Linked DNA regions of Homo sapiens: region 1 is linked to region 2. Evidence: fine-mapped expression QTL. A gene starts in region 2. The other region holds a variant in brackets. All regions are shown on one strand. Distances are from middle to middle. Region 1 has its middle 12 kb from the start of MIR4645. Region 2 holds the start of SERPINB9 (serpin family B member 9).

Region 1 (9,229 bases), 40 kb after region 2:
CACTTAGAGCGACCAGTAAGGGGCTTCGTACCCGGGCCAGCAGCTGCGGAGGGCGTGCTGGGTCCCCCAGCACTGCTGGCCCCCCCAGCACTGCTGGTCCGAGCGCGCCGCGCTAGAATTCTCGTTGGGCCTCCCCACAGGGCAGGGCTCAGGACCTGCAGCCCGCTATGCCCCAGCCCCCCGACCCCGGTGGTGGGCTCCCGCATGCGCCCAAGCCTCCCTGCTGGGCGCCGCCCACTGCTCCGCGGCGCCTGGTAGCATCCACTGCCCAAGGGCTGAGAAGTGCAGGTGCCTGGTGCCGGACTGGCAGGCAGCTCAGCCAAAGCAGCGGAATCCACTAAACAAAACCACCTAGGCTCCTGAGTCCAGTGGGTACTTGGAGAACTTTTATGTCTAGCTAAAGGATTATAAATATACCAGTCAGCACTCTGTGTCTAGCTCAAAGTTTGTAAACACACCAATCAGCAGCCTGTGTCTAGCTCAAGCTTTGTAAACGCACCAATCTGTGCTCTGTGTCTAGCTAATCTAGTGGGGACTTGCAGAACCTTTATGTCTAGCTAAAGGATTGTAAATACACCAATCAGCACTCTGTGTCTAGCTCAAGGTTTGTAAACAGACCAATCAACACTCCGTGTCTAGCTCAAGGTTTGTAAACACACCAATCAGTGCTCTGTATCTAGTTAATCGAGTGAGGACTTGGAGAACTTTTATGTCTAGCTAAAGGATTGTAAATGCACCAATCAGCACTGTGTCTAGCTCAGGGTTGTAAATGCGCCAGTCAGCACCCTGTCAAAACGGACTAATCAGCTTTCTGTAAAATGGACCTATCAGCTCTCTGTAAAATGGACCAATCAGCTCTCTGTAAAATGGACCATTAGCAGGAGGTGGGTGGGGCCAGATAAGGGAATAAAAGCAGGCTGCCTGACCTAGTAGCACAAACTGCTGAGTTTGTTTTCTGTGTTGGGGTTTTTGATTTTTTTTTTTTACGTTCTTCAGGCTAAACTGTGGTGCGTTTTGTTTTTTGATTCTTGGGCTCTGTGTTTTTAGGAGCTGTAATACTTCACATGAAAGTTTGTGGGTTAACTCTTGAAGCTGATGAGGCCATGAACTAGCTAGCAGAAAAAATTGTGCCTATCTGAATGTCAAAAGGAATAAGCTCTGGGTGTCTTTATGTCTTTCTTAAGAACTGTAACGCTCACTGTGAGGTTTTTGTGGCTTTTTTTGCTTAATTTAGGTGTGATCAAGAATCCACAAATTTCAGACATTACTTTCCACTGAAGCTTAATTATTTTAGATCGGAGCCTAAGCATTGGTGTTTAAAACTTTCTCAGGTGGTTTTAGTTACCTTCTGGGGTTGAATCAAATCTGGCTCTAAGTGGTTTTCTGTATGGGCAATATTAGAATTGTTAGGATTCGTGAGACCTCTGAATTTTCAAGCCCCATCTGAGACTTCAGGAATTTTGAGAATGGGCATTTCCGGGTGAGTGATTCTGATGCATGCACTTACCTAGCCCAACCCCTCATGTCACGGGTGGTAACAAAGCTGAGAGCCTAACTTGTTACTTCTAATTCCAGCCGAGGTGGAGTAACAAGTATCAAGAGTTATCCTCCCATTGTTATTAACCGTAAACTGGACAATGTATACGAAACAACTGGTGGGTTGGTTTGGATCTTGTGGAAGCTTGGTTTTTATTAGATAATAGTTTAGAATAATCTTCTAGGGCTATACTAGCCCTAGTCCTGAGGCCTGAGATCTCTGGACTCTCAACTACATGCTGAAATGTCTAGCATATTTTAAAAAGTTATTAAACCTACGTAGTGTAAGTATGACCCATAACCAGGAAAAAGTCAATAAAAACACACGAAAGTGAGACAAATGTTAAAATTAACAAAGACTGCAATGCAACTCTTAGAAATATGTTAAAGGATTTAAGGAGTAGATGGCATAGCGAGTGAACAGATAGAAAACCTCAACAGAAAAATAGAAACTTAAAAATTACTGGGAGGCTGAGGTAGGAGAATGGCGTGAACCCAGGACGCGGAGCTTGCAGTAAGCCGAGGTTGCGCAACTGCATTGCAGCCTGGGCGACAGAGCGAGACTCCATCTCAAAAAAAAAAATTCTGAAACATTTAAAATGAAACATTTGGCAGATGAACTTAATATTGGATTGGACATTTTAAAAAATCAGTGAATTATATACATTACTTTTTACCCCTAAATACGTTTTTATATACCCCTAAATGTGCATTTTTTATTTTTTAAAAGGGCATTTTCCTATGTAACCGTAATACCTCATACTTATTAAAATGAACAATTAGTTTGTCATACTGAATCCATATTCAAATTTTCCAGCGGTCTTGGAGATACTTTTATAGCTTGTTTATTTGAGCAAGAATCCATTCAAGGGTTATGCATCAAATTTCATTGTGATGTTGCTTAAAATTCTTTTAATCCAGAACACCACCTCAGCATTGTGTCTCCTTCATTTTCTGACACATTGATTTAAGAGCTCATTCTTGTACAATATCCCACGAACAAGGTTGCCAGTGGTATTCATTTTAGTCGATTTCAGCCAGAATAGGGTTGGGAGAAGAAAAGATGCATGAAATAAAGTATTTCTGGATCTTCATGTTTTTAGCTGCTAAATCAGAGCTCTCGTGCCTATGCATATTTCATGCAACAGAAAATCGCCTGGGCTTTGTTAAATGTCAATACATCTCTCTGGCATCATTTATAATGGCTACCTTGTGATCCATTAGGTAACTTAACCATAATGTATTATTCAATCATGTAAAAACAGACATTCCAGCTATTTATATTTTTACCATTACAGATATCACTTTGATAATTTGATGGGAGGAAAATTGCACGTCATTATTTAAATTTTCATTTATTAGTCACCCATACTTCTTTTAGAATTAGCCTATTTTTATTTGCCTACTTTTGTCCTTGGGATATTCATTTTTTTGTCTTGCAGTTTTTAAGCACTCTCTACCAATAGATTTTTCTTAATGTTATATACATATCGCAAGATAATTCCCGTGCTTTTAATTTACATATTAGTGTTATTAATATTTTAAGTAAAGAACTTTTTTTATTTAAATAGTCCACTTTAGTATTTTTTTTGTTTTCTTCCTCCAGAGTCTTGCATAGAAAGTCTTCTTGACACTCAGATTATATAAATATTCACTTGTCTTTTTCCTTAGAGCTTTTATAATTTTGTGTTTTTGCATTAACTCATTTGGAACTTGTTTTAGACTAACATGAGAAGTTTAATTTTTAAGGTAATAAGTTTTATTGTGTGTATTAAAAACACTGAGGCTGGGCATGGTAGCTTACACCCGCAATCCCAGCACTTTGGGAGGCCAAGGCAGGAAGATGGCTTGAGCCCAGGAGTTCAAGACCAATCTAGGCAAGTAAGACCAGTAAGTCAAGCCTAATGAAGCCATGAGTGATAAGAAAAAGGCATTATGAACTTAGCAACACTACCAGTAAGTGGGAGTAAAGACCTTTAAGAGGTTTTTTTCCTCACACCAATCAGTTCTTTGACACCAACTGGGTGTCCAACAATTCAATTCAATTCTGACAGTACTTAACGTCCAGTTAGAGGGCTCAGCCCCCAAGACTACCCCCTCTTCAGACACCTGTCACAAATGGGGTGCCCAGGCTCTTCACACTGCTGCCCGGCCAAGTACAAATTTGGGGATTCCCATAACCTCCCTCAGGCTTAATAATTTACTAGAATGACTCACAGAACTCAAGAAAGCACTTTATTATTATCACCAGTTTATTATAAAGGCAGAAACAACCAGTGGAAGAGATGCAGAGAGCAAGTTAAGGGGGGTCGGGGGTGCGTGCAGAGAGCTTCCATTCCCTCTCTAGACACTCCACCCTCTCAGCACCTGTCTGTTCATTAACCCACATGCTCCCTCAACCTGGTCTTTTTGATTTTTATGGAGGTTCCATTACATAGGTGTTATTGATTAATTCACTGGCCATTGGTGGCTGAACTCAATTCCCAGCCCTTCTTCCCTCCCCAGGGGATCACCAAGAGCCGCCTCATCAGCATAAGCTCAGGTGTAGCTAAAGCGGCTCATTTTGAATAGCAAAACACACTCGCATTACTCAGGAAATTCCAAGGGTTTTAGGAGCTCTGTGCCGGGAACTGGGGATAAACACCAGATATATTTTTTATTATATCACGAACCTAAATGAAAGTAACCTCTTAGGAAGCTTGAAAAGGGATGAAAATAGCTAGTTAGGAGTTGTCGACTGACAGGAAGAAGCTGAGGCAAAATTAATATGAGAGTTTATTTGGGTCAGGGTTGAGAACAGCTGCTTGGGAAACACTTCCAAGTTGTCTTGGGAAGTGCCCAGAGAACAAAGGATGAATCAGGAGAGGAGGCAATTACCAACATTGTTGGTTAAGAATTCTCATTGGTTTACAGAAATAACATTGATTAGTGATTGGCTATAGTTGAACTATAGGGTATAAGTTATGTTGTCCAGCATATGCCGTCGTTAGGTTAATTTATAGCTATTGGTGGTGGCATTGGG[T/C]CAAGAGTCCACATAGCAGGCAGATTACATACATACATAGCTCAAGCAGTGAGTGAGATGTGACTACTGTCACATTTCAATGCCTGTCTGGACCTGATGACTTAAAGGGGTTCATATTCCTCAGATAAAAAGTTTCCTTTCTGGCCCGGACTGGTGGCTCACACCTGTAATCCCAGAAATTTGGGAAGCCAATGTGGGAGGATCACTTGAGGCCAGGAGTTTGAGACCATCCTGGGCAACCTAGTGAGACCTTGTCTCTACAAAAAATAAATAAAATTAGCCGGGCGTGATGGCACACGCCTGTAATCCCAGCTACTCAGGAGGCTGAAGTAGGAGGTTTGCTTGAGCCCAGGAGGTCGAGGCTGCAGTCAACTGAGGTTACACCACTGCACTGCATCCTGGGTGACAGAGTGAGATCCTGAGAAAGAAAGAGAAGCAGAGAGGAGGGGAGTGCAGGGGAGGGGAGGGGAAGGGAAGCGGGGAGGGAGGGAGGAAGGAGGGAGAGCGAGTGGAAGGGAGGGAGGGAAAGAAAGATTCCTTTCTTCTTCAGAGACAAATGCTCAGTGAGTTCTATCCTACGTGTTGCAAGGTGAAGGGAGGGGGGTCACAAAATCACGACAGAATCCCATCTTCAAGGAGCTTAAAATCTGGTCATGGAATACAATGGACAAATGGGCCGATTATTTTACGACTGACCCTCCCCACAACAGGCTGCCCCGTCTCCATTTGGTTATGCCTGGTCCGTTGCTGCTGTTGCCCTCTCTTCTCAACACTCTGGGATTGTTGGTAGCTGACTCTCTCATCAGGACAATTTTTAGGGTTTTCATTTCTCAGAAAAGTTGTTGACTATGGAGAAACAAGAAAGATTGTGGCAATGAATACAATTCTCATTCCTATGAAGGCATAAGAAGGATGGGTCTTTCCCCCAAAACTTTAAAGAATCTTGCCAGAAATTGTATCAGGCCAAGCCAGAGGGGCCGTCCTTTGCAGAGGCTGCAGCGGTGTCCCTGCAACACACACAATTGCTTAGGTGGTGAAAGCGACAGAGGGTGGGGTCTTTAATTTTTATGTTTTCTGTTGTTAACAGCATTGTACTTTATAAAGGACAGAAATTTATTTCCACAACTATTTCTACTACATATAAATTGGTATGTGGTAGATAAGAAAATTATTAGGTAAGGAAAAGCAATCAATTTTTAATTATTCTGGGAGACAAAAAACAAAAAACTTTAGAACAATAGTCATCAGCAAATGATTTCTTTTCTTTTTTTTTTTTTTTTTTTTTTTTGAGACAGAGTGGGCTCACTGCAACCTCCGGCTTCTGGGATCAAGCAATTCTCCTGCCTCAGCCTCCCGAGTAACTGGGATTACAGTCATGCACCACCACGCCCAGTTAATTTTTTTGTGTATTTTTAGTAGAGACGGGGTTTCACCATGTTGGCCAGGCTGGTCTCAAACTCCTGTCCTCAAGTGATTCACCCGCCTCGGCCTCCCAAAGTGTTGGGATTACAGGTGTGAGCCACTGCACCCAGCCCAAACATTTCTTTAGTTATCTCTTACTAAATGATGGAGGAGGCATATGCCTTACATAGCTCAGGGCATGGCGGCCAAAGAATCCACTGGTATTTGGAGCAGTTTCTTCCAGTTCAGCTTAGTTTAACAAACATGTAGGAATGTTGACTTTGGCCCAGGCCCTGGGGATATAAAGATGAAAAGGTAATTCTGCCCTGTAAACTCTTTGGGCAACTGGGAGTGATCCTGTATTCAGTGTGTCAAGTCCACCTCCCCTTGGGGAGCCTTAAGAAGCCTCAGCCTGGGGGGATCATGTATGGCCTTCCTCCTAGGAGATGTGTTTGGATGATTAAATCCACGAGTGTATCTCAGTCCTTGGTGCAATGCCTGGGGCCGGATAGGTCCAGCGAGGTTGGATGTCGGCATGTAATCCCAGATACCCCACCTTCCACAGCTGTGCATCAGTGTTTCAAAGGAAAGTGATCTACACAGTTTTATTAAATAAACAACAGCAGCAACTTGTGTGTGGGGTAGGGAGTCTTAAAATCAGCAAGGTAAGGATAGAACGATGTCTCCATGTCTATCTGTGCAGAAACTGTCTTGAAACACTAGGACACTGTCATGGGCTGGATTGGGTTGTTCTTCACTCCCCTCAATTCATATGTTAAATTCCTAACCTCCAGTATCTTGGAATGTGACTGTATTTGGAGACAGGGTTTTTACAGGGGTAATTAAGGCAAAATGAGGTCATTAGGTCACCCAATATGACTGGCGTCCTTATAAAAGGGTTAATTTGGACACGGACACATACAGAGGGAAAACACTAAAGAGCTATAGAGAGAGGAGGGCCATCTGCAAGTTAAGGAGGGAGGCCTGGAACATATTCTCCCTCTGAGTCCCAAGAAGGAACCCACCTTACTGACACCTTGATCTTAGACTTTCAGCCCTCAGAAATGAGACAATAAATACCTTTCTGTTGTTTAAGCTGCCCAGCCTAAAGTACTTTGTTATGTATGGCAGCCCTAGACAGTTAATACAAATATTAATATCAACAATTCGTCACAATGATTCCTTTTGGGTTTTTAAATGCAAATGAGTGCCTAAACACCAGAGATGATTTTCTCTTTAGCTGAATCATGTGAGTATTCTGAGTCAAGTTTATATTTTTAATAAGTTAAAACATTTTGCCTTCCCCTTTCCGTCATCTGGTTGTGGTCATCTGATTTGAATAACATCTGCTTTCTTTTAGAATGAGAACAAAGCCGTTACACTCATATATAAAATACCTTCTCACCACCTGTTTTGGGGGATTAATGGTAGTTTAAAAATTAAGTGCAACTCAAGTTGTGGCCAAGCAAGGCCGACTGACTTCCTGAGATGTTAGGATCCTGTTCTTGGGGCCACCTCATTTGTTTGCATGGCTCCAGGGGACACCTTTCACATTGGGTATGACTGGAGCATCATCCTTGAAGGTGGGTGACTCTGCAGCCCTGCCTACCCTCTGGTGACATCTGAAGTGTTGTTGACATCAGCTTTAATTCAGAGGAACTCTACACAAATGTCTTGGGTACTCCTGTGTGCTGAATACTGTGGGAAGACCATTCTTCAAGGACTTTATGATCCACTCCAAAGGTGGAAAGGCAAGCCCACCTTCAATATGACATAGAACATGGTAACAAAATAGATGTGTAAAGCACTTTTGCTACTTAGAAACACTTTAGATCCATTTGACTATTTGATTTTTTCTAGCTTTCTTGAGGTATAGTTGACAAACAAAAATTGTATACATTTGCAATGTACAATGTGATGTTTTGATATATGTCTTAGTCCATTTTGTGCTGCTATAACAGAATACCACAGACTAGGTAATTTATAAAGAACAGAAATTTATTTCCTCACAGTTCTGGAGGCAGGGAATCCAAGATTGAGGGTCTGGCATCTGGTGAAGGCCTTCTTGCTGCCTCGTCCCATGGTGGAAGGTGGAAGGCAAGAGAGGATGAGAGACAAAAGAAGGCCCAAATTGTCCTTTTATAAGGAATCCACTCCCCAGATAAATGCATTAATCCATTCATATGGGCAGAGCCCTCATGATCTGATCACCTCTTAAAGGTCTCACCTCTTAATACTGTTACAGTGGTAATTAAATTTCAACATGAGTTTGGGAGGGAACAAACATTTAAACCATAAATACAGATACATTGTGAAATGATCACCATAGTCAAGCAAATTAACATATCCTCCACATTTACTTATCATTTGTGTATGTGATGAGAACATTCAGGATCTACTCTTAGCACATCTCAAGCATACATTCTCATGAACTTTCATAGCCATGCTGTACCTTAGATTTCCAAAATGTGTTAACTTTGAGTACCTTAAACTTTTTGAGGTAGTCTGTCACGCAGGCTGAAATGCAGTGGTGTGATCTCAGCTCACTGCTACCTCCCCCACCTGTGTTCAACTTATCTTTCCACTTCAGCCACTCAAAGTACTGAGATTACAGGTGTGAGCCAGAATGCTCAACCCATAATTCAAACTTTATACCCTTTTGTGACCGGGAATTGGTGGGGTTTTGGTCTCACTGACTTCAAGAACAAAACCGCAGACCCTCATGATGTGTTATAGCACTTAAGGTGGCACATCTGGAGTCTGTCCTTTATTGATGTTCAGATGTATTTGGAGTTTTTTTTTTCTGGTGGGTTCACGGTCTTGCTGGCTCAGGAGGCAAGCTGCAGACCTTCGTAGTGAATGTTACAGTTCTTAAGGCAACGCATCTGGAGTTGTTAATTCACTCCTGGTGGCCTCATGGTTTCACTGTGCTTAGGAGTGAAGTTGCAGATCTTCACCGTGACTGTTACAGCTCACAAAAGCAGTGTAGACCCAAAACGAGCAACAGTAAGATTTATTGCAAAGCGAGAGAAAAGAGGAAGGGAGGGGGAGGAAGGGAGAGGAAAGAGAGAAGAAGAGAAGGAGAAGGGGGAAGAAAAGAAAAGAAAAGAAAAGAGAAAGAAGAAGAAGAAGAAGAAGAAGAAAAAGCTGCCACAGTCTGGAAGGAGATCTGAGCAGGTTGTCAATGCTGGCTCGGGCAGCCTGCTTTCATTCTCTTATCTGGCCCCACCCACATCCTGCTGATTGGTAGAGCCTAGTGGCCTGTTTTGT
Region 2 (11,532 bases):
AGAACTTCTGTAAAATTACTGGTGAAACATTTTCAGTTTTATGTCTGCTCTTTCTTGTGTTCCCTGGGGCCAGGTTAGATTTAAACCTGAAGACTCATTTTTTTTTTTTTTCTGTTCTGTTTTCCTCCTGTTATCAAGGCTTCCTAGCATGAATAAATCTGCCAGACCCATGGTTCTCACCTAGGGGGCAACTGTGCCCCGGCCTGGAGGACATTTGGCAATGTCTGGAGACATTTTTGGTTATCATCATTGAGGGGTAGGTGTGCCTGGCATGGAGGGGGTGGAGGCCAGGGATGCTGCTGAATGTCCTGCACTGCACAGGACAGCACCCAGTGCAAAGAATGATCTGGCTTCACACATCAGCAATACGTCAGTTGAGAAACCCTGCGCTAGACAATTAAAGCATTTCGTTATAGGACCCTACCTAATTTTTTGTGTAGAGATTCATTTGGAGGTCCCTCTTTAGGGGAAGTAAGAGGGCAATGTTCGAAGTTGGCATTGCTGTTTAATATTACCAGGCACTTTGTTTAAACAAAGATAACGACGTTCACCAAGACTTCCAGTCACTTCCCATTGAAGTGAATATATCTTAGAATCGCTGACAGACTTTGGAGAAAAAAACACGTTTTAGTAAGTAGTACTCAGAATCAATGAAAAGGAAAATAAAAGAGGAACTACAGAAGAGTAGAGAATACACACAATTCTGCTGCCATCACATGTACTTAGAATTGCACTTGTGTAATTATAATTTTTATTTATTATTTTTTTTTTGAGACAGAATCTCAGTCTGTTGCCCAGGCTGGAGTGCAGTGGTGCGATCTTGGCTCACTGCAACCTCCATTTCCTGGGTTCAAGCCATTCTCCTGCCTCAGCCTCCTGAGTAGCTGGGATTACAGGCGCATGCCACCACGCCTGGCTAATTTTTGTATTTTTAGTAGACATGGGGTTTCACCATATTGGCCAGGCTGGTCTTGAACTCCTGACCTCAAGTGATCCACCTGCCTTGGCCTCCCAAAGTGTTAGGATTACAGGTGTGAGCCACTGGGCCTGGTCTAATTTTAATCTTTAATATTGCTTCTAAATTACATCTCCCTTGTTTATTTTTTGATAACCCTCTTCTGATGTCAATTTCAATATGTCCATTCTCCTGCGCCCAAATCTGCGTCTCCTCCTTAAACCCCGTCTTCCAGCATGCAGCACAAGGCTCAGCCATCAGGGCCTCCTCCCCCATCTCACCTCTGGGTGCTGGACTGGTTTCCTCTCAAGGCCTCTTACATTCGCCCCCTTTCTGAGTCATCCCTGCTACTGCCTGGCTTCACAATCCCCCTTTAGCTTCTACACTACCATCTTAACTGCCTTTTAAGCACTCTCTCCAAGCACAGCCTGAAACCTCCCTCTGTCTCATAAACCCCCATTACTGACAGAATAGTTTTTGTAAATAAAAAATCTGTTCATTAAACTGAGGCTTTAAATGTGAGTAGCTTTTATTTACTTAAACGTGTACTCACAGTCCAGAAAAACCCTTCCATAATGCAATACATGAGGCTCAAACAAATTCTACCAGGTTGAAGGGGTGGGTCGCCCCTCCACACCTGTGGGTGTTTCTCGTTAGGTGGAACGAGAGACTTGGAAAAGAAAAAGACACGGAGACAAAGTATAGAGAAAGAAATAAGGGCACCCAGGGGACCAGCATTCAGCATATGGAGGATCCCGCCGGCTTCTGAGTTCCCTTTGTATTTATTGATCATTCCTGGGTGTTTCTGAGAGAGGAGGATGTGTCAGGGTCACAAGACAATAGTGGGGAGAGGGTCAGCAGACAAACACGTGAACAAAGGTCTTTGCATCATAGACAAGGTAAAGAATCAAGTGCTGTGCTTTAGATACGCATCCACATAAACATCTCAATGCTTTACAAAGCAGTATTGCTGCCCGCATGTCCCACCTCCAGCCCTAAGGTAGTTTTTCCCTATCTCAGTAGACGGAACGTACAATCGGGTTTTATACCGAGACATTCCATTGCCCAGGGACGGGCAGGAGACAGATGCTTTCCTCTTGTCTCAACTGCAAGAGGCATTCCTTCCTCTTTTACTAATCCTCCTCAGCACAGACCCTTTACGGGTGTCGGGCTGGGGGACGGTCAGGTCTTTCCCTTCCCATGAAGCCATATTTCAGACTATCCCATGGGGAGAAACCTTGGATAATACCTGGCTTTCCTAGGCAGAGGTCCCTGCGGCCTTCCGCAGTGTTTGTGTCCCTGGATACTTGAGATGAGGGAGTGGTGATGACTCTTAAGGAGCATGCTGCCTTCAAGCATCTGTTTAACAAAGCACATCCTGCACAGCCCTTAATCCATTTAACCCTGAGTCTGACACAGCACATGTTTCAGAGAGCACGGGGTTGGGGGTAAGGTCATAGATCAACAACATCTCAAGGCAGAAGAATTTTTCTTAGTACAGCACAGAATGGAGTCTCCTATGTCTACTTCTTTCTACACAGACACAGTAACAATCTGATCTCTCTTGCTTTTCACCACACCAGGTAGCATGCAGGATGATGTTATCTGAGATCAGTGAGCTGCTGACTGGCTGGATTCCAAGGGTTCTTCTGTAAGATTCAAATACATCCCAGTCATCACTGCTGCCGGGGACTCTCCTGTGGAGGTTGCCTGCTCTCGGCTTATATCCCACTGGGGCAGATTCTGGGCCCTTTGGGTGGATAAGCACCAGCGATCCCAGGAATCATTTTTGAACATTGGCCTGATCTTTGACTATTATAATTGGAGAATACTGGGGACACAGGGGGCCACCTGCCACCTTTCTCGTTGCCTAGCCCCTTCTCCTCTCTACATCCTCTTCTGTAGAACCAAGATTATTTGAGAACAAGAAGATGGGCAGAGGATGGGAGGCTAGTGCCAAGCCCATTATAGCTGAAACCAGGTGATCATGGAAGGGAGTCAGCTCTGGGCTTCAAAGGTTTGCATACAGGCCTTTTCGATTTGACCTCAACATACGTTTCAAGGCTCATCTCCTGCTGCTGTGTTCTTCTTATCCCCCTCCCGACATACGTACTCGAGCACACACACACACACACACACAACCTCGACACACGTACTCGAGCGCACACACACACACAACCTCGACACACGTACTCGAGCACACACACACACAACCTTGACACACGTACTCGAGCACACACACACACCTCGACACACGTACTCGAGCACACACACACAACCTCGACACGTACTTGAGCACACACACACCTCGACACACGTACTCGAGCACACACACACAACCTCGACACACGTACTCGAGCACACACACACAACCTCGACACGTACTCGAGCACACACACACACAACCTCGACACACGTACTCGAGCACACACCTCGACACACGTACTCGAGCACACACACAACCTCGACACACGTACTCGAGCACACACACACAACCTCGACACACGTACTCGAGCACACACACACAACCTCGACACACGTACTCGAGCACACACACAACCTCGACACACGTACTCAAGCGCACACACACAACCTCGACACACGTACTCGAGCACACACACACACAACCTCAACACACGTACTCGAGCACACACAACATCGACACACGTACTCGAGCACACACACAACCTCGACACACGTACTCGAGCACACACACACAACCTGGACACACATACTCGAGCACACACACACACACACACAACCTCGACACACATACTCGAGCGCACACACACACACAACCTGGACACACATACTTGAGCGCGCGCACACACACACACAACTTTGACACACATACTCGAGCACACACACACACACAACCTGGACACACATACTCGAGCACACACACACAACCTCGACACACGTACTCGAGCACACACACAACCTTGACACACGTACTCGAGCACACACAACCTTGACACACGTACTCGAGCACACACACACACAACCTCGACACACGTACTCGAGCACACACACACACACACACACACAACCTCGACACACATACTCGAGCGCGCACACACACACACACACAACCTCCAGACCCTTCCAAGTCCATCTTCAGGGACCTTCCTTGGTCCCTGTTCTCTCAAGCCACCTGGATGATGCAGATCTGAAATGCCGTTTCCCTGTTTGCCCACTTGCAGATCTCTATTTCTTGATCATCTAATCCCAGTATGAAGCCTTTCAATCATTCAACAAATACGCTTCAGCAAATACAGTTGTCTCTTGGTATCTGATTGATTCCAGGATCCTAGCGAACATTGAGCTCTGCGGATCCTCAAGTCCCTAATATAACATGGCGTAGTGTTTGCATATAACCTATGCAAATGTAACCTGTGTAACATCCTCCCATACGCTTGAAATCATCTCTAGATTATGTATAATACCTAATACAATGTAAATGCTGTACAAATAGCCGTTATACTGTATTGTTTTAAATTTTGTATTATTTTTTGATTTTTTAAAAAATTTTTCCATCTGCAGTTGGTTGAATCTGTGGATGTGGAACCTGAGGTACCGGTGGCCAAATGTACAGTGTGCTAATATAAAAATTAGTAAAGGAGGGTTAGGCTGTCCTGAGGCTCGCAGTCCGGTGTGGGAGACAGAAGATTTAGTGGAAAGTCCCTGTGGAGCTTAAGTGTTGGGCTGGGCCATTCTAGGGGTGTTCAGGGCACCTTGGAAGTACCTCAGTGTGCTCGCCGTCTCTCCCTCAGACTGCTGCCCTCTTGGGCCAGATATTGTGTCTTCAACTTGGTACCAAGTTCCCAGCAAGTGCCAAGCCAAGCCCATGGCAGGAAGCGAATTATTTTTTGTTAACTGAATGCATGAGTCTTAGAATGGAACCTGACTGTGTCACAAGCATGATAGGAACATGTTGGGGGCAGGGAAATGTTTTCAAAGTTGTGGAAACCTTTGCAGAATGAATAGGGCCACGCTCCATATTTTGCTCTTTGCAGGACTTTAAGGAAGTGTGTCAAATGCCCACAGGTAGAGCTGGAAAATGTGGCCTTTGCTAAAGATGCAGAAGAGTCTAGAGACGCACAACGGCTGGGTCATTGGTGGTGAGGGACTTTATTTGCAGTGAACTTGGAGCTAGGAAGGAAGTTACTGCTGGGTGGGTCCTCAGTGACGGAGGTCTGCTTACACGTTTGCCAGGTTTTCAGGCCAGCAACATGATTCTGTCATTTCTCTTGGGCTTGTCTGATCATGAAGTAGTGATTTTTGAAAAATCCTTGGACCTGGTGTGAGGATCAAAGACTCCCTTCCTCCGGACAGTGTTGGAAAATCCTGGAAAAATGCTTCCTCTGGGGCCCTGTGTATTTTCTATCTGGGAAAACCATGATGAGCAATCAGATAAAGAAATATTTTTGTGATATGTTGTGACTTTCTTAAAGTAATAAAGTAGAAGAGATTTTAAATGAAAAATATAGGTAATTGCAAAATCTCTTGATTCTTAGCTATTTCTGAACAGATTTCATGCCCCACCCCCCCATACAATTTTTAGTGGGGGAAAGAGGAGAAAGGAAAGGAAAAGCTAAAATAACCTTGTTTTCATAGTTCTGTGTTTTTATCCTTTCCTAAACCCATTTTCCATCGCTGGTCACATGATTTGGATTGAAAGGACGTTTCCTCTAGGCCTCGGAGCACAGAGGCAGCTAACATGTTTGCACTATGCCATCATGGTCCACGTTTACTCAGACACTTTCTTGCAATGGCACTGACAACGATGCCCCCATTTGTTGCCTTAAAATTCATGGGTATGGCCAGGCACAGTGGTTCACGCCTGTAATCCCAGCACTTTGGGAGGCTGAGGCGGGAGGATCACCTGATGTCAGGAGTTCGTGACCAGCCTGGCCAACATGGTGAAACCCCATCTCTACTAAAAATACAAAAATTAGCTGGGTATGGTGATGCATGCCTATAGTCCCAGCTACTTGGGAGGCTGAGGCAGGAGAATCGCTGGAATTGGGAGGTGGAGGTTGCAGTGAGCCAAGATCACGCCATTGTTCTCCAGCCTAGGCGATAGAGCAAGACTCCACCTCAAAAAAATAAATAAGTGGATAAATAAATAACAGCTTTTTGTTTAATCAATTGTCTCTATCATTATAAAGTTTTCTATATCATTGATTTATTCTCTAATCTTTATTATTTCTTCTTTTCTACTGATTATGTGTTCAATGTATTTATACTTTTTCTAGTTTTTGAAGGTAGAAACTGAGGTCATTGATTTGAAGCCTTTCTCCTCTCCTAATATAGGCATTTCATGCTGCAAAATTTCCCCAAAGCTGACTTAATAACATCCTACAAATTTTGATGTTTTTATTTTCATTTTTTATTAATTTCAAAATACATTCTAATTTCCCTTTTGATTTTATAATATTTTTATAAGTATTATTCAGTTATAAAAAGAAATAAAGTACTAACAAATGCTACCTGGAACCATCAAGAATGACCCTTGAAAACATTATGCTAAGTGAAAGAAGGCAGTCAGGAAAGACCACATATTGTATGATTCAATTTGCATGAAATCTTCACAGTCGGTCAATCCGCAGGGCCAGAAAAGAAATCTGGAGGTCGGAGCCTCTCCCAGAAGCCAGGGGTTGTGGGAAGGAGGAAATGGAGAATAATTGCTAATGGGTATCACAGTTCCTTTTAGGGTGATGAAAACCTTCTGGAGTTAGATAGTGGTGAGAGTTGGACAGCTTTGTCAATATACCAAGAACTATTGAATTGTATGCTTTAAAAGGATGCATATTATGGTCCGTGAATTGTCTTTTAATAAAGGTTTTATTTTTAAAAACAAGCTAGGCACCTAGGGTGTCAAATTGAAGGAGGCTCTGATTCTCAGGGCCGCGCAAATGCAGGGTTGGCACCTATGCGTGTGGCCCTCCTGAAATTTTGTGCCTTAGGCACCTGCCTTGCTTCTCCCTAATTCAGGCCCTCAGGAGAAAGCTCTAATTCTGGTCAATTTGAAACAGGAGGGCACGGCTTCTGGGCGACGCTCCGTGCTCCAGAGAGAGCCATTTGTCTGTTCCCTTCCTCTGGACGTCACCGTGCCAACATGAAATGCTTCCAATTGAGTCCAGCCTGAGATGGAAGGGGGTGGGGGGATATCTGATGACATCACGAACTGCTGCATCAACTCCCCCGAGTCCCTGCCTCTGGACCCCCTGATAGAGGACACAAGGAGTGTCCTGAGCCCGTGTGACTCAGTGTCTCTTCCCATCACTTTGCGGGAAAATGGGGCTGCTTACACCACACCGCAGCCCAAACACCTGTGGCTAGAGAAGGGCTTGGGTACTAGGAGTGAGGACGCCTGGTTCTGGGCCCAGGACTAGTACTAGTTAGTGGTGGGACCTGGAACAAATGCTTTGGTTCTAAGTGAATCCCCCATATTCATGACAAGAGGCGTGGAACACAGACCCATGGGACCTTCCCACTGGAACACGGAGCTTGGCTGTCACCCGACCTTCGCTTCCTTAAGTACAAAAGCCCAGGGTTCCAGGCTCCGTCTCCTTTCCCGCAGACGCCTTGTTTCTTCGCGCGGAGGCCCTGGACGCCGCAGGCTCCCAACCTACTTCTCTGGGCTGTCAGGTTCTGAACCCGGTCCTGAAGAGGCCCTGGCGCCGGGGGTGGGTGAGGCCGAGCGCGCGCCTTGGGAACCTGGCCGGCCTCAGGCTGGCGGGAGCATTGGCGGACATCGCCCCGGGCGGGGCGGACTGGGGGGACCCTGACCTGACCCTGCTCCCAGCTCTGACCTCGGCCACCACGCGCGGCGCCCCCGCTGGTCCCGCCAGGCTCCGCCTAAACGCAGAAAGCGTGGGAGGCGCCCGACCCTGCGGTATAAAAGCGGTGCCTGCAGAGGCCCTAGCGGGAGTCCGCGGCGAGCGCAGCAGCAGGGCCGGGTCCTGCGCCTCGGGGGTCGGCGTCCAGGCTCGGAGCGCGGCACGGAGACGGCGGCAGCGCTGGACTAGGTGGCAGGTGAGGGCGTCCCCGCGCACGGCTGGGGTAGGGGACGGGAGTGGCGAGCTTCAGGTCCACCGGCTGCCACCGAGTGATGGGACCGGAGGACAGGAGAGGTCGCTCAGCCAAGAGCCCCGGGGAGGCGGTGCCTTCTCGGTGGGGTCAGCAACGGTCTCTGGGGGGTGCCTGGGAGCGGCAGCCGGTCTCCGCCTTGGCGGCCCACAGCCACCGCGGACGCCTCCCTCCCGGATGTCTCCTCGCTGCCCTTCCCTGGCCGAAGCCCTCCCCTGCAGCCTCCTCCCCACCTGCCGGCCCTGTGTTCTCACTGCTCTTCTCTGCTCTGGGATCCGCAGGATGACGTCTGTCCTGCTTCTTCACTGTCCTTTACAGTCACCAGTCTCGGCCGGGCGCAGTGGCTCACGCCTGTAATCCCAGCACTTTGGGAGGCCAAGGCGGTCGGATCCTTGGAGATCAGGAGTTCGAGACCAGTCTGGCAAACGTGGTGAAAACCGGTCTCTACTAAAAATACAGAAATTAGCCGGGCATGGTGGCCCACGCCTGTAATAATGTCAGCTATGTGCTGAGGCAGGAAAATCACTTCAACTCGGGAGGCAGAGGTTGCAGTGAGCTGGGATTGCGCCACTGCACTCCAGCCTGGCAGACAGAGTGAGACTTCGTCTCAAAACAAAAAAAAGAAAAACACAAAAAAACCACCACCAACAACAACAAAAAAATAAAGCCACCAGTCTCGGAGTTTCAAATCTGAGCACTCTTATCCATCTTAATTCTTTCAATAATTCAGCTAAACGAATGGGGTCCTGAGAATCTGCAGAGCCAGGCTCAGCGCTCGCCTGCAGAGCCTGCGGTCTGTGGGGACCACCAGCAAGATGAGGAATCACCTTCGGGAGGAAGGGTCGTGCTGGGGAGGGTCGCGCCGGCGGGGTCAAGAGAACCTCCTCCAGGGTGGGAATCAGAGCCTCCGGGCCGCGGTGTTTGAGGGTGAGTGGAATTAATGCCGTGATGGACATGGGGCCTTCTAAGGGGGACCAACAGTGTTTGTGAAGAGTTGACTTTGGGAGGGGTTCAGGATGGCCAGAGGTGGAGGCTGTGACCTCAGTGAGTCTGGATCAAGGGAGGGGGCAGGTGGGTAAGACACCGTTTTAACAAGGTGGCTTTGAGCGGCCACCTTTGAGGGGCCTAAGGGCCCCTGGGAGATTTAGGAGGAAGGACAAGAGGATTAAGACACCGCTTTCTGAGGTGCCGTGTGGCTGTGGCGTGGGGGTGGCTGGGGGAGTGGGTTGTGTTCATTGTCCAAGGCTCTCCAGCGCTTTGCGTGGCGTTTTGGGGAGCACAGATGAGGTGTCCCGACAGTGGGGAGTGGCTCTAGGGAGACCAGAGGCTCGGGAGGGGGCCTGGGCATTAGACCAGGCACAGAATCCGAAGTGGGAAGAAATGTGGGCGTAGAGGGCAGGCCTTGGGGATGGGTGTGGGGGAGGAGGGGGAGATGGAAAGGAGTCAGGGAGGTCTCCCAGGCTCACCTGGAGGAGTCAGGGTCTCATTTCCAAGTGCACTGGGAACTGCAGCCTGGGGGTGGGGGTTCATTTGGTTTCAGGCCTGTGGCCAAGAGACCCACCCCCTCACATTCACACTTTGGTCTCCAGTGGCTTCACAGGCACCACCTCCTTGTTCTCGCCTGTTTTACTCCTCACCTTGGGCTGTTTCTTGCCTTTCCATTCTGGCGTTCTGCAGGGATCAGATCCTTCCTCTCACGCACAATCTACACTCATGGCTTTTGCTGGGAGTAATGAGTAAAGCTCCCAAATAGATGTTTCTGAGTTAGGAAGCACATTAAAAACAAAACAAAACGAAGCAAAACCACACAATTGTCCAAGTCCCACTCTGTGTTCAAGGGTCACATGATGTGCAGAAGCTGGTGATGGGCAGGAGCTCTGAATGGAGTTACTGGGATGTCAGGCCGCGTGGGCCTGGGGCAGGCTGGCTGACTGGGAGCAGCCTGGCTCCACCCCGGCTGTCCAGGACGCACTCACTTGCCTCTATGGATGACAGCTCCTTGCCTCACAGCTGTCTGTCTCTGGGTCAGATTCAGCATCTCAGTGTCTTTTGTGTATCAGCTGAATGTCAGGGAGGCCACAGGCTGGTGCCCAGTTGAAAATCTCACAAGGACTCTTTGTAAATGCATGCAAGAATAAGAACAGCATTTTCCTCCTCCTCCCTGACCCCATTCTCCTCCTCAGATGGGACGATCTGGTCCTTACGGAAAGAATTGGAGTTCACTGCTTCCAGCTCTGTGTGTGTGTGTGTGTGTGTGTGTGAGAGAGCGAGCTCTGCAGGCGAGCCAGTTCTGTTGCTATTGCTGGTTTGAGCTGCTGCCATCACCACACTTAGCTAATTACCTTAACATTTGCACTTAATTTTTGGCCGGAGACTAACAGAAAATAAATTTTTCTCCAATTTAAAATACTTACGAACTTTAAGAAGAAAACAAAAAGTACGATTCCAAAATTGCCCTGTAGTAAGTAGGTCAGTAACATTCAGGGAGTGTGGAAACTGCATTTCTCTTTATTCTTCCCTTCCAGGCCCTGCATCATGGAAACTCTTTCTAATGCAAGTGGTACTTTTGCCATACGCCTTTTAAAGATACTGTGTCAAGATAACCCTTCGCACAACGTGTTCTGTTCTCCTGTGAGCATCTCCTCTGCCCTGGCCATGGTTCTCCTAGGGGCAAAGGGAAACACCGCAACCCAGATGGCCCAGGTAAGCTTGCCCGTCCGCCAGGAGCAGGGACTGGCCTGGGCTGCGTGTTCTGTCACCAGCTTCACACTCACACTCCAGAGCCACTGAGAAAGGAGGGCAGGACTGGGGCCCGAGTGTGCACTGGCCGTTTCAGGGAGGCGGGGTCCACTGGGGAAGAAGTGGGGCAGGGCAGGGAGGCAGGAACTCTGCTCCACCGAGATTTATTTGGGGGAAACTTTCCTCGGTTAATCCCTTGGAAAAGACCATCCAAGCTGTCTTGTCCTAGCGCAGAATCTTTCTTTAGAAAATGACACTGAAATTATTTGAAACATAAGTTGCAAAGAACTACCTCTTTTTTGGAGCAAGAGACTTTGTAACTAAACTTTCATTGGTAAGGAAGGTTAATACCTGTTTCAAGTTGTTTCTGTACCAACAGCTCAGGGAGGGCATCAACAGAAATTTGCAAGAAGGATTCCAGGGCAAGTGCTTCATTACAGCTGCACACTGTGCAGGTACTGCTCAGCTCAGTCTCACCAACATTCAGAGAACCTGTGGAAATGATTCAAGATCAGTGCTTGTCCCCAGACCTTTGTGGAAAGGAGAGGAGACATACACGTGAGATGAAACCGAAAAGCGCCATCCCTGAGTGCAGGCCGCTGGACACGCCTTCATCATGGGAGTTGTCCTTTGTTCAATATGACTGTCTTTTTCTTTGATGACGCTTTTCAATAGTGAATTACTCATTTTAATAATTTCCCAGCTCATTGTGTGAAGAAGGGAGGGTTTATGTGTAAAGGCTA

The links. PIP is the estimated chance that this variant, and not a neighbour inherited with it, causes the effect.
Region 1: its variant is fine-mapped to the expression of SERPINB9 in whole blood (TOPMed, PIP 0.95).

The regions. Positions count from the first base shown.
Region 1 is chr6:2,861,124-2,870,352 of GRCh38, reverse strand. It overlaps the pseudogene SERPINB9P1. Among named protein-coding and RNA genes, the nearest start is that of MIR4645, 12 kb to the right of the region's middle. RefSeq lists enhancers at 61-635, 3,387-3,536, 3,557-3,666, 7,319-7,648. The variant T/C (reference allele first, on the strand shown) is at 4,559.
Region 2 is chr6:2,899,665-2,911,196 of GRCh38, reverse strand. SERPINB9 (serpin family B member 9) reads left to right here and starts at 7,888. Exons shown (of 7, transcript NM_004155.6): 1 at 7,888-7,996; 2 at 10,576-10,753. The coding sequence starts at 10,586. SERPINB9-AS1 (SERPINB9 antisense RNA 1) reads right to left here. Exons shown (of 5, transcript NR_110841.1): 4 at 11,141-11,281; 5 at 10,521-10,714. RefSeq lists enhancers at 1,767-2,600, 2,601-3,434, 7,923-8,424 and silencers at 2,448-2,742, 7,693-7,742, 7,843-7,922, 8,163-8,212.